Regions from separate parts of the Homo sapiens genome. Here region 2 is linked to region 1. The links come from fine-mapping of genetic effects on gene expression. A gene starts in region 1. The other region holds a variant in brackets. All regions are shown on one strand. Distances are from middle to middle.

The links. PIP is the estimated chance that this variant, and not a neighbour inherited with it, causes the effect. A credible set is the group of variants that fine-mapping cannot tell apart.
Region 2: its variant is the best candidate, but not a certain one, in a credible set for the expression of SLC39A13 in whole blood (TOPMed, PIP 0.79).

What each region holds. Positions count from the first base shown.
Region 1 is chr11:47,406,043-47,411,415 of GRCh38, reverse strand. It overlaps SLC39A13 (solute carrier family 39 member 13), which reads right to left and starts at 2,826. Exons shown (of 10, transcript NM_001128225.3): 1 at 2,754-2,826; 2 at 1,021-1,329. The coding sequence starts at 1,321. SLC39A13-AS1 (SLC39A13 antisense RNA 1) reads left to right here and starts at 2,134. Exons shown (of 4, transcript NR_182308.1): 1 at 2,134-2,464. RefSeq lists enhancers at 702-1,566, 1,567-2,433, 2,722-3,544 and a silencer at 2,524-3,313.
Region 2 is chr11:48,279,651-48,285,023 of GRCh38, reverse strand. No RefSeq gene overlaps it. Among named protein-coding and RNA genes, the nearest start is that of OR4X1, 18 kb to the right of the region's middle. The variant C/T (reference allele first, on the strand shown) is at 2,845.

The DNA.
Region 1 (5,373 bases):
CCAGGCTGGTCTCGAACTCCTGACCTCAGGTGATCTGCCCACCTCAGCCTCCCAAACTGCTGAGATTACAGCTGTGAGCCTTTTATGGGCTCTTATGGGAATTAAATGACAATATGTACAGCAAGTGCTCATTACGTGGGAATTTTTCTCTTCTCAGCTGCTGTCACTCTCAGAAAAGTGGCAGAGATTTGGGGACTTGCAGCATCCAGGGTTGGAAGTCGCCTGCCTGAAAGCCATGTCCAACCCTTTGGCTTGATAGAGAAACTGAGGCCTAGAGGACAGAGGCAGCTGGGTTTGGGGTGGGATCCCAGGGGAAACTGCTATTTCCTGGCTGGGTGACCTTGGACTGGTCAAAGAACCTCTCTGTGCCTGTGCATCCCCACTTGTAAAATGGAACTAATAATCCAGGTGCTCCCTGCACTGACCCCGCAGGGCTGCTCTGAGGGTTGAGCACAGGCCTGACCATGGCCCAAGCAGGGCTCTATTCACAGCTGTGGCACCGCCCTCAGCCCAGTGCCTGGCACAGAGCTGCTGGGTAACCATCTGGTAAGTGAATGGTTCCTGAGCATCCAGCTGGCAGCACCAGCCCCTGGGATGCTCGTTTCTAACAGATTCCCAGGGCCTTGGTCCACCCCTCTTAGGTGGGGGATAGGCACGTGCATTCTTAGCAGCTCCCTAGAGCTCTCCTGCGTGTTTTGTTACAACATGTTATTTGTGAACGGGCAGTACATGCTCATGGTACAAAAGGGTAGTCAGGACAAAGCTCCCACCCGTGCCCACATCCCCATCTCCTAGACCCCCTCCCCAGGGGCAGGCCCTGCTACCAGGTGCTCATAGCTTCCTGGGGAAGCCAGAGCCAGCCGCCCCTGGCTAGATAGCTCCTACAGGACCAAGGGGAGAAGTTCTATTCTATCCTCTCCCTCCATCTCAGACACTCTGTGACCTGGGGTCTCCTAAGAAGAGCAGCAGCATGCTTCCCACACCCTGGCCAGCCCTGGGCGCCACCGGAGAGTCACCTACCTTCTGAGCGCAGCATGGTCCCCATCTCTAGGGGAATGACAAGCAACGGGAAGACCCCACTGAGCCCCACCATGAGGGAACCCAGGAGGGAGCAGATCCAGGTGTCCAGCCGCTCTCCGCTCAGCAGAGCCCCCCAGGACTCGCTTTCCTTGTTGTCCAGGCGACAGGCCGTCGCAGTCCCCCGGCTCCGGAGGGCCGGCTGGGAACCCCCAGCCCTTTCCAAGAGCTCCAGGGCAAGGGCAGTGAGGAAGAGGAGCCTTGGGCCCGCCATGCCACAGCCAGGGCAGGGACATCCAGGCATGCCACGTACTGAAAAACACAAAAGGCCACCTATATGAGCTACAGCCTTGGCCGCACACCTGCTTAGGAAACGTGGCGCCTCCCTCCTCCCCGCAAGGGACCCTGGCATCCACCCTCCTGCTGTCCTTGCCAGAGCGTCTGAGCATCCAAATGCTGGGTGCACAGCAATGGGGCCCTGTGTCTCCACACCCTACTCCTGAGCACTGCGTATTTTTTCCTTCTGAGCAGCTCCAGACTGTGTCAGCACCTCCGCCTGAGGCTAAACTTTCCCTAATGACAGGGTGAGGCGCTGGCTGGCTCTCCTCAGCCACCGGCGGCACGGCCCGGCCCAGCTGGGTGTCTCTGGCTGCCAGGGGAGGCCCTGCCGCCCGCGACACCCCAGAGACTGAGGCACCCCTTCTAAGGGGATGGGGTGGATTCAGAGAGACATACGTGGGGAAACTGAGCAGATGAGCCAGGGCAAGACCATCCACGCTTCTTCCTAGGACATGAGACCAATGTCCCCAGGGCACTGAGGGCAACAGGAGATGGGGCTGATGAGGAAGGAGCCTTTAGCCAGGGGATGCCTCTCTCTTGTATAGCGCAGGCTTTAGAGCCCCCACGGTGAATTCTATGCTGCACTTTGAGCTGTCTAACTCTGGGCAAATCTCTGAAGCCCCCCCTCTGAGCCTCAGTGCCCTCATCTGCAGGACAGGGATCAATATCACCTGCCTCAGCTGTGAGGACGAGATAAGCCTGAAAGTGCAGGTGGATGTACCCGGCATGAGGAGGCGCAGAGGCCCTGCCTGTGCCAGGGAAGGCCTGGGGCTCCCTGCAGCAGGAATGTGCCCAGCCGGCCGATCACAGGATGTGGACGTGAGTCAACCAAGCGAGAAGTTCCATCTGGAAACTCGGGCATGAGGTTTAAATGTGGTCTGCTCTGCCTCAGGCTGGCTGTGACCTTGAGCTGGTGATGTCCCTGCCTCAGTTTCCTCACCTTCTGATGGAGATGGGAGGGGAAGAAAGCAGCTGCCTCTGGGTGGTGGCAGAGATGCCCATGTCTAGGACCTCCAGGCCTTAACTAATCAGGGGCACTGATGAAGCCAGCGGGGCTCCACTGGGGACCACAGGCAAGACTGGGCCAGGACGAGGCGGTCACGCAGAGGTGAGGGGACCACAGGCTAGCGGGAGGGAATACACGGAGAGTCCAAGGGGAGAGGAAAGTAGAGAGTGAGAGAGCTAGAGAGAGGCGGGTGGGACGCGGAGAGGACAGCGAGGGAGGGATGGGGCGTGGGGCGCGGAGCGATGGGGGAGAGGAGGCCGAAGCGGGCGAGCCTGACTCCCGGGTCCTGGGAGCCGGCCCAGGTCTGATGAGGACCAGTCGGACGGGGCGAGGGATCGGCCGGGTCCATCACGCCCGGGGCGCGGGCCCCGAGGGTCCTGCTGGCACTCACCGTGCGGCGGCGGCGGCGGCGATCCGGGCGGCCCCAGCCATCCAGCTGCGGTGCCGCGCCCCGCCCAGGCTCTGCCCCGCCCGGCCGCCCGGCCGCCCGGCCCCCGGCCCGGGGCCGCCCCCGGCGCGCGGCCACGTCACAAGGGGCCTGTCCGGAACCCGAGGCGCCGCGTGCCGCGGGGTCGGGGGGAGTGGCGGCGGGAGGGCGCTTCCGCCTCGCGGCGGTGGGGGACCCGGGTAGAGGGCGCACTTCCGTTTGGGCAGGGCTGCGGGCCGGAGGGGAGGGTCGGTCGGAAGTGAGAGAGCCACACGCACCGCGCTCAGCCAGGCTGGGCAGGGACGGAAGCGGCGGCTCTGCGGGGACCGCGATCGACCAGGCTGCGGGGCTTGCGGATCTGGCCGCCGCTTCCCGTCCAGGGCCGCAGTCTGCCCGTGGCCGCACGGGGGCGCGCCCGGCCGCCAGACCACGCCGCCCAGGTCGGGCTGGGAGGACTACTGTGCGCTCCTGCTCTGAGTCAGCCCGGCCTGGCTCCTCCATGAGCAAGGGAAAGGGGAAGTGCCTGCCGCAGGGAGGGGCCTGGCCCCGGGAACCTCAGAAGAGGGAATTTTATTCTTACTCATCGAATTATTTTTATGCTTTGGTTTTTCACTGGGAACCTCAGGCCACTGTCTCCAGGGCTTGTAACCCTTTGGGGTCCAATGCATGGTGGCTGGACCCTGCTGATGGGAACTCCAAACCTGGGAGGCGAGGGCTCTGTGCTTCCCTCACCTGGAGGAAGCTAGACCTGACCTCTTTGGTTAGACTAAGGCAGCAAACACTGGATAGCAGTTCTTATAACCGCAATTTACTGACCACCTACTATGTGCTATTCACTTTACTCGCACTATCTCACTGAATCCTCATATTATCCCATTGTGGTGGGTACTGTTAGCCCAGGGTCACACAGTGGCACAGATGGCAGAGCCAGGATTCAAACCTGGGTGTCCTGAAGCCAGAGTATGTGATACCACTTCTCACGTCTAGGTCCTGAACAGCAGTGGGAGTCTGGCTTGGCGTTTCGAGTTTGTATTCTTCTCTGGAAATCAGCCAGTACAGGAGAAGATTCAGGAAGGGGCATGTGGGTACTCACTTGGGCAGAGATAGCGACTGAGTACAGGTCTCTTAAGTCTCTGACCCTCATCAGCCTCCCATGGCAGCTCCAACCATTTACTCTGTCACTTTCCCCTCTGCTGGGGCTCTTGAGAGCACACTCAGCTCTCAGGGCTGCCTCTGGTGCCTGTCCCACTTCATGTTGCACTGTTGGCCTTCCTTAGACCGCCAACTTCTCCCTGGTGGCCCAGCTTGTCTTCTGAAGCTTTCTGTCCATCTCACCCCACCGGGCCCATACAACTGCCAGGACGTTCTGTTCCCTCCCTGAGTTCCAAAATGGAATCCCTGGGTTAGTTTCTTGGCAAAGAAAAGCTACTCAGGGATCCTGCCCTAGGACTTCTAAAATGCCCCCCTCCCTGTATGCAAAAGCGCTCCATCTTATGCAAAGCACTTCACAATATGCAAATGATTTCACAATAACACAGTCAGCATTCCTGCCTCTGGAGGCTGAGCGCTCCTGGCCACCCAACAAGGGGATGGGCAAGACCCAGCCAGAAACGTTACTTGGTGCCAATGCACTACCCTTTCCTCCCACCTGGCCTGGAATTCCCATCGGATACCTAAGGCCCGGTGGCTCACATCTGTAATCCCAGCACTTTGGGAGGCCTAGGAAGGAAGATCTTTTGAGCCCAGGAGTTCCAGACCAGCCTGGGTAACAAACTGAGAACTGGTCTCTACAAAAAAATTTAAAATTAGTCAGGTGTAATGGTGCGCACCTGTAGCCCCAGCTACTCAGGAGGCTGAGGTGGAAGGATTGCTTGAACCCGGGAGGTCAAGGCTGCAGTGAGCCCTGATCGTGCCACTGCACTCCAGTCTGGGTAACAGAGCGAGACCCTGTCTCAAAAATAAAAAAATAAAAAAAATTACAAATTAATAAAATTGCAGGGGTTTCCAGGTGTGTGAGAAAAGTGAGATGCAGAAATATTTATTTAATATGATCCACTATTTTTATTTTTTAAGAGACTATTTTAAAATAATGACAAAAAGAAACCTTGTATATGTGTATGTGATTAAAGGTATCAGTATATATAAGTCTATGTATAATGAATACATAAAAAACATAGATAACACATTAAAGTGATATTATGGATTCTATGGTGGGAGGAACTAATGTGAATAGGGAAGGAAAAAATGTTAAAGGAAAACAACACATTAAAAGATGTGTATGGCCATATATGGCTGGGCATGGTGGCTTATGCCTGTAATCCCAGCACTTTGGGAGGCCAAGGTGGGCAGATCACCTGCGGTCGGGAGTTCAAGACCAGCCTGACCAACATGGAGAAACCCCCTCTACTAAAAATACAAGATCAGCCAGGTGTGGTGGCGCATGCCTGTAATCCCAGCTACTCGGGAGGCTGAGGCAGGAGAATCGCTTGAACCTGGGAGGTAGAGGTTGCAGTGAGCCGAGATCGCGCCATTGCACTCCAGCCTGGGCAACAAGAGCGAAACTCCATCTCAAAATAAATAAATA
Region 2 (5,373 bases), 870 kb before region 1:
CAACAAACATGGCAAAAACAAGCAATTTGGAAAAGATTCTCTATTTAATAAATGGTGCTGGGAAAACTGGCTAGCCATATGAAGAAAACTGAAACTGGACCCCTTCCTTACACCTTATACAAAAATTAACTAAAGATGGATTAAAGACTTAAATGTAAAACCCCAAATCATAAAAACCCTAGAAGAAAACCTAGGCAATACCATTCAGGACATACGCATGGGCAAAAACTTCATGACTAAAACACCAAAAGCATTTGCAACAAAAGCAAAAATTGACAAAATGGATCAATTAAACTAAAGAACTCCTCCAAAGGGGAAAAAAACTAGCATCAGAGTGAACAGACAACCTACAGAATGGGAGAAAAATTTTGCAATTTACCCATCTGACAAAGGGCTAATATCCAGAATATATGAGGAAATTAAACAAATTTACAAGAAAAAAATAAACAAGCCCCTCAAAAAGTGGGCAAAGGATATGAATAGATGCCTCTCAAAAGAAGACATTTATGTGGCCAACAAACATGAAAAATAGCTCAACATCTCTGATCATTAGAGAAATGCAAATCAAAACCACAATGAGATACCATTTCACACCAGTCAGAATGGCAATTATTAAAAAGGCAAGAACCAATAGATGCTGGTGAGGCTGCGGAGAAATAGGAACACTTTTACACTGTTGGTGAGAATGTAAATTAGTTCAACCATTGTGGAAGACAGTGTGGTGATTTCTCAAGGATCTAGAACCAGAAATACCAGTTGACCCAGCAATCCAATTCCTGGGTATATACCCAAAGGAATATAAATCATTCTACTGTAAAGACACATGCACACATATTTATTGCAGCACTATTTAGAATAGCAAAGACATGGAACCAACCCAAATGCCTATCAGTTATAGACTGTATAAAGAAAATGTGGTACCTATACCCCAGCAAATACTATGCAGCCATAAAAAAGAAGTTTATGTCCTTTGCAGGGACATGGATGAAGCTGGAAGCCATCATCCTCAGCAAACTAATACAGGAACAGAAAACCAAACACCACAGATTCTCATTCATAAATGGGAGTTGAACAATGAGAGCACATGGACTCTGGGAGGGGAATGACACACACTGTGGCCTATCAGGGGTTGGGGGGAAGGGGAGGGAAAGCATTAGAACAAACACCTAATGCAGGTGAGGCTTAAGACCTAGATGACAAGTTGATAGGTACAGCAAACCACCATGGCACAAGTGTAACTATATAACAAACTTGCATGTTCTACACATGTATTTTGAAACCTAAAGTAAAATAAAAATAAAATAAAATAAAATAAATGCTAAAAGGAGTTATAAATCTTGAAACAAAACCTTGAAATACACCAAAATAGAGACCCCTTAAATTACAACTCTCAGAGTCTACAAAACAATAGCACAATGGAAAGAAAAAAAGTATTAAGGCAACAACAACTAAAATGATGAACAGAACAGTACCTCACATCTCAATAGTAACATTGAATGTACATGGCCTAAATGCTCCACTTAAAATATACAGAATGACAGAATGGATAAAAATCCAGCAACCAAGTATTTGCTGTCTTCAAGAGACTCGCCTAACCTATAAGAATTCACATAAACTTAAGATGAACAGGAGGGGGTTCAACCCAAGTGGAAACCAAAAACAAGTTCAACACAAGTGGAAACCAAAAGCAAGTGGAGTAGCTATGCTTAAATCAGGCAAAATAGAGTTTAAAGCAATAACAGTTTAAAAACACAAAAAAATCATTATTATATAATGATAAAAGGTATAGTCCAATAGGAAAATTCTAAATATATATGCACCTAACACTGGAGCTCTCAAATTTATAAAACAATTACTACTTGGCCTAAGAAGTGAGATAGATGGCAACACAATAATAGCAAAGGACTTCAATACTCCACTGACAGCACTAGAAAGGTTACCAAGACATAAAGTCAACAAAGAAACAACGGACTTAAACTATGGCTTGAAACAAATGGACTTAACAGATATTTACAGCACATTCTGCCCAACAACTGCAGAATATACATTCTTTGCATCAGCACATGGAACATTCTCCAATATAGACCATATGATAGGCCACTAAAACAAGTCTCTATCAATTTAAGAAAATCAAAATTATATCAAGTATCCAAGACCACAGTGAAATAAAACTGGAAATTTACTCCAAAAGAAACATCAAAAGCTATACAAATACATGGAAATTAAAATATCTGCTCTTGAATGATCATTGGGTCAACAATGAAATCAAGATCAAAATTTTAAAATTCTTTGAGCTGAATGATAATAGTGACACAACTTACCAAAACCTCTGGGATACAGCAAAAGCAGTGCTAAGAGGAAAGTTCATAGCATTAAATGCCTATATCAAAAAGTCTGAAAGAGCACAAATAGACATACCTCAAGGATCTACAGTCACACCTCAAGAAACTAGAGAAAAAAGAACAAACCAAACCAAAACCCAGCAGAAGAAAAGATATAACAAAGATCAGAGCACAACTAAATGAAATTGAAACCAAAAAATAATAATTCAAAAGATAAATGAAATAAGCTTATTTTTTGAAAAGATAAACAAAACTGATAGACCATTAGTGGGAATAACCAAGAAAAGAAGAGGAAAAAATCCAAATAAGCTCAATTAGAAATAAAACAGGAGATATTACAACTGATACCACAGAAATACTAAAGATCATTCAAGGCTACTATGAACACCTTTACTCACACAAACTAGAAAACCTAGAGGAGATGGATTAATTCAAGGAAATATATAACCCTCCCAAATTAAATCAGAAGGAAATAGAAAACTCTGAACACATCAATAACAAG[C/T]AGCAATATTAACAGTAGTAAAACAAAAGCCAACAAAAAAAGTCCAAGACCAGATGAATTCACAGATGAATTCTATCAGACATTTAAAGAACAATTGGTACCAACTTTAATACTATTCCAAAAGACAGAGAGAGGGAAATCTCCCTAAATCATTCTATGAAGCCAATATCAACCTAATTCCAAAATTAGGAAAGGACATAATGGAAAAAAAAATAAAGACCAATATCCCTGATTAACATAAATGCAAAAATCCTCAACAAAATACTAGCTAACCAAATCCAACAACATATCAAAAAGATAATACACCATGATCAAGTGAGTTTCATAACTGGTATGCACGAATGATTTAACATGCACAAGTCAGTAAATGTGATACATCACATAAACAAAATTAAACACAGAAATCGTATGATCATCTCAATAGATGGAGAAAAAAGCATTTGACAAAATCCAGCATCCCTTTATGATTAAAACCCTCAGCAAAATCAGCATAGAAGGGACATACCTCAGGGTAATAAAAGCCATCTATGACTAACCCACAGCCCACATTATACTGAATGGGGAAAAGTTGAAAGTATTCCCCTGAGAACTGGAACAAAGCAAGGATGCCCACTTACACCACTTTTATTCAACATAGTACTGGAACTCCTAGCCACAGCAATCAGACTAGAGAAAGAAATGAAAGGCATCCAAATCAGTAAAGAGGTTGTCAAACTGTTGCTGTTCACCAATGATATGATTGTATACTTAAAAAACCCTGAAGATTCAACCAAACACTCCTAGATTTGACAAATGAGTTCAGTAAAGTTTCAGCATACAAAATCAATGTACATAAATCAGTAGCACTGCTATACACCTACAATGACAAAGCTGAGAAACAAATGAAGAACTCAATCTTTTTTAACAACAGCTGCAAAAAATAAAATAATATAAAATACTTAGGAATATACCTTACCAAGGACATGAAAGACCTCTACAAGGAAAACTACAAGACACGGCTGAAAGAAATCAATGATACAAATGGGAACACATCCCTTCCTTACGGATGGGTAGAATGAATATAGTGAAAATGACCATACGGCCAAAACCGATCTACAGATTCAATGCAATTCCTATCAAAGTATTTATTATCATTTTTCACAGAACTACAAAAAAAATTCTAAAATTCATATGGAACTGAAAAGACCCCACATAGTCAAAGCAAGACAAAGCAAAAGGGACAAATCTGGAGGCATCACATTACCTAATTTCAAACTATACTACAAGGCTATAGTTACCAAAGCAGCATGGTGCTGGTATAAAAATAGTCATGTAGACCAATGGAACAGAATAGAGAACCAAGAAATAAAGCCAAATACTTGCCACCAACTGATCTTCACCAAAGCAAACAAAAACATAAAGTGGGGAAAGGACACCCTATTCAACAAATGGTGCTGAGATAACTGGCAAGCCACATGTAGAAGAATATAACTGGATCCTCATCTGTGACCTTACACAAAAATCAACTCAAGATGGATCAGAGACTTAAATCTAAGGCCTAAAACCATAAAAAATTCTAGAAGATAACATCAGTAAAACTCTTCTAGATGTAGGCTTAGGCAAAGAGTTCACGACCAAGAACCCAAAAGCAAATGCAACAAAAACAAAAATAAGTAGATGGGACTTAATTCAACTAAAAAGCTTCTGCACAGCAGAAGAAATAATCCACAGAGTAAACAGACAACCCATAGAATGGGAAAAAATATTTGTAAACTTTGCATCTGACAAAGGGCTAATATCCAGAATCTGCGAGACACTCAAATCAGCAAGAAAAAGCAAATAATCCAATCAATAAGTGGGCTAAGGACATGAATGGATAATTCTCAAATGAAGATATGCAAATGGCCAATAAACATGAAAATATGCTCAATATCATTAATTATCAGGGAAATGCAAATCAAAATGATAATGCAATACCACTTTACTCCTGCAAGAATGCCCTTAATCAAAAAATTTAAAATAATAGATGTTGGTGTGGATGTGGTGAAAAGGGAACAATTTTACACTGCTGGTGATAATGTAAACTAGTACAACCGCTACATAAAACAGTATGGAGACTCCCTAAAGAACTAAAAGTAGAACTACTATTGACCCAGCAATCCCACTACTGGGTATTTACCTAGAGAAAGTTATTAAATGAAAGACACTTGCACATGCATATTTATAGCATCACAATTCACAATTGCAAAAATATGGATCAAGCCCAAATGCCCATCAATCAATGAGTGGATAAAGAAAATATGTCATATATACATCATGGAATACTACCCACCCATAAAGAGGATTAAATAATGGCATTTGAAACAGCCTGGATGGAGTTGGAGACCATTATTCTAAGTGAAGTAACTCAGAAGTGAAAAATCAAATATCATAGGTTCTCACTTGTAAGTGGGAGCTCAGTTATGAGGACACAAAGGCATAAGAATGATGTAATGGACTTTGGGAATGCAGGGGAAAGATGGTGGGGTGAGTGATAAAAAACTACACATT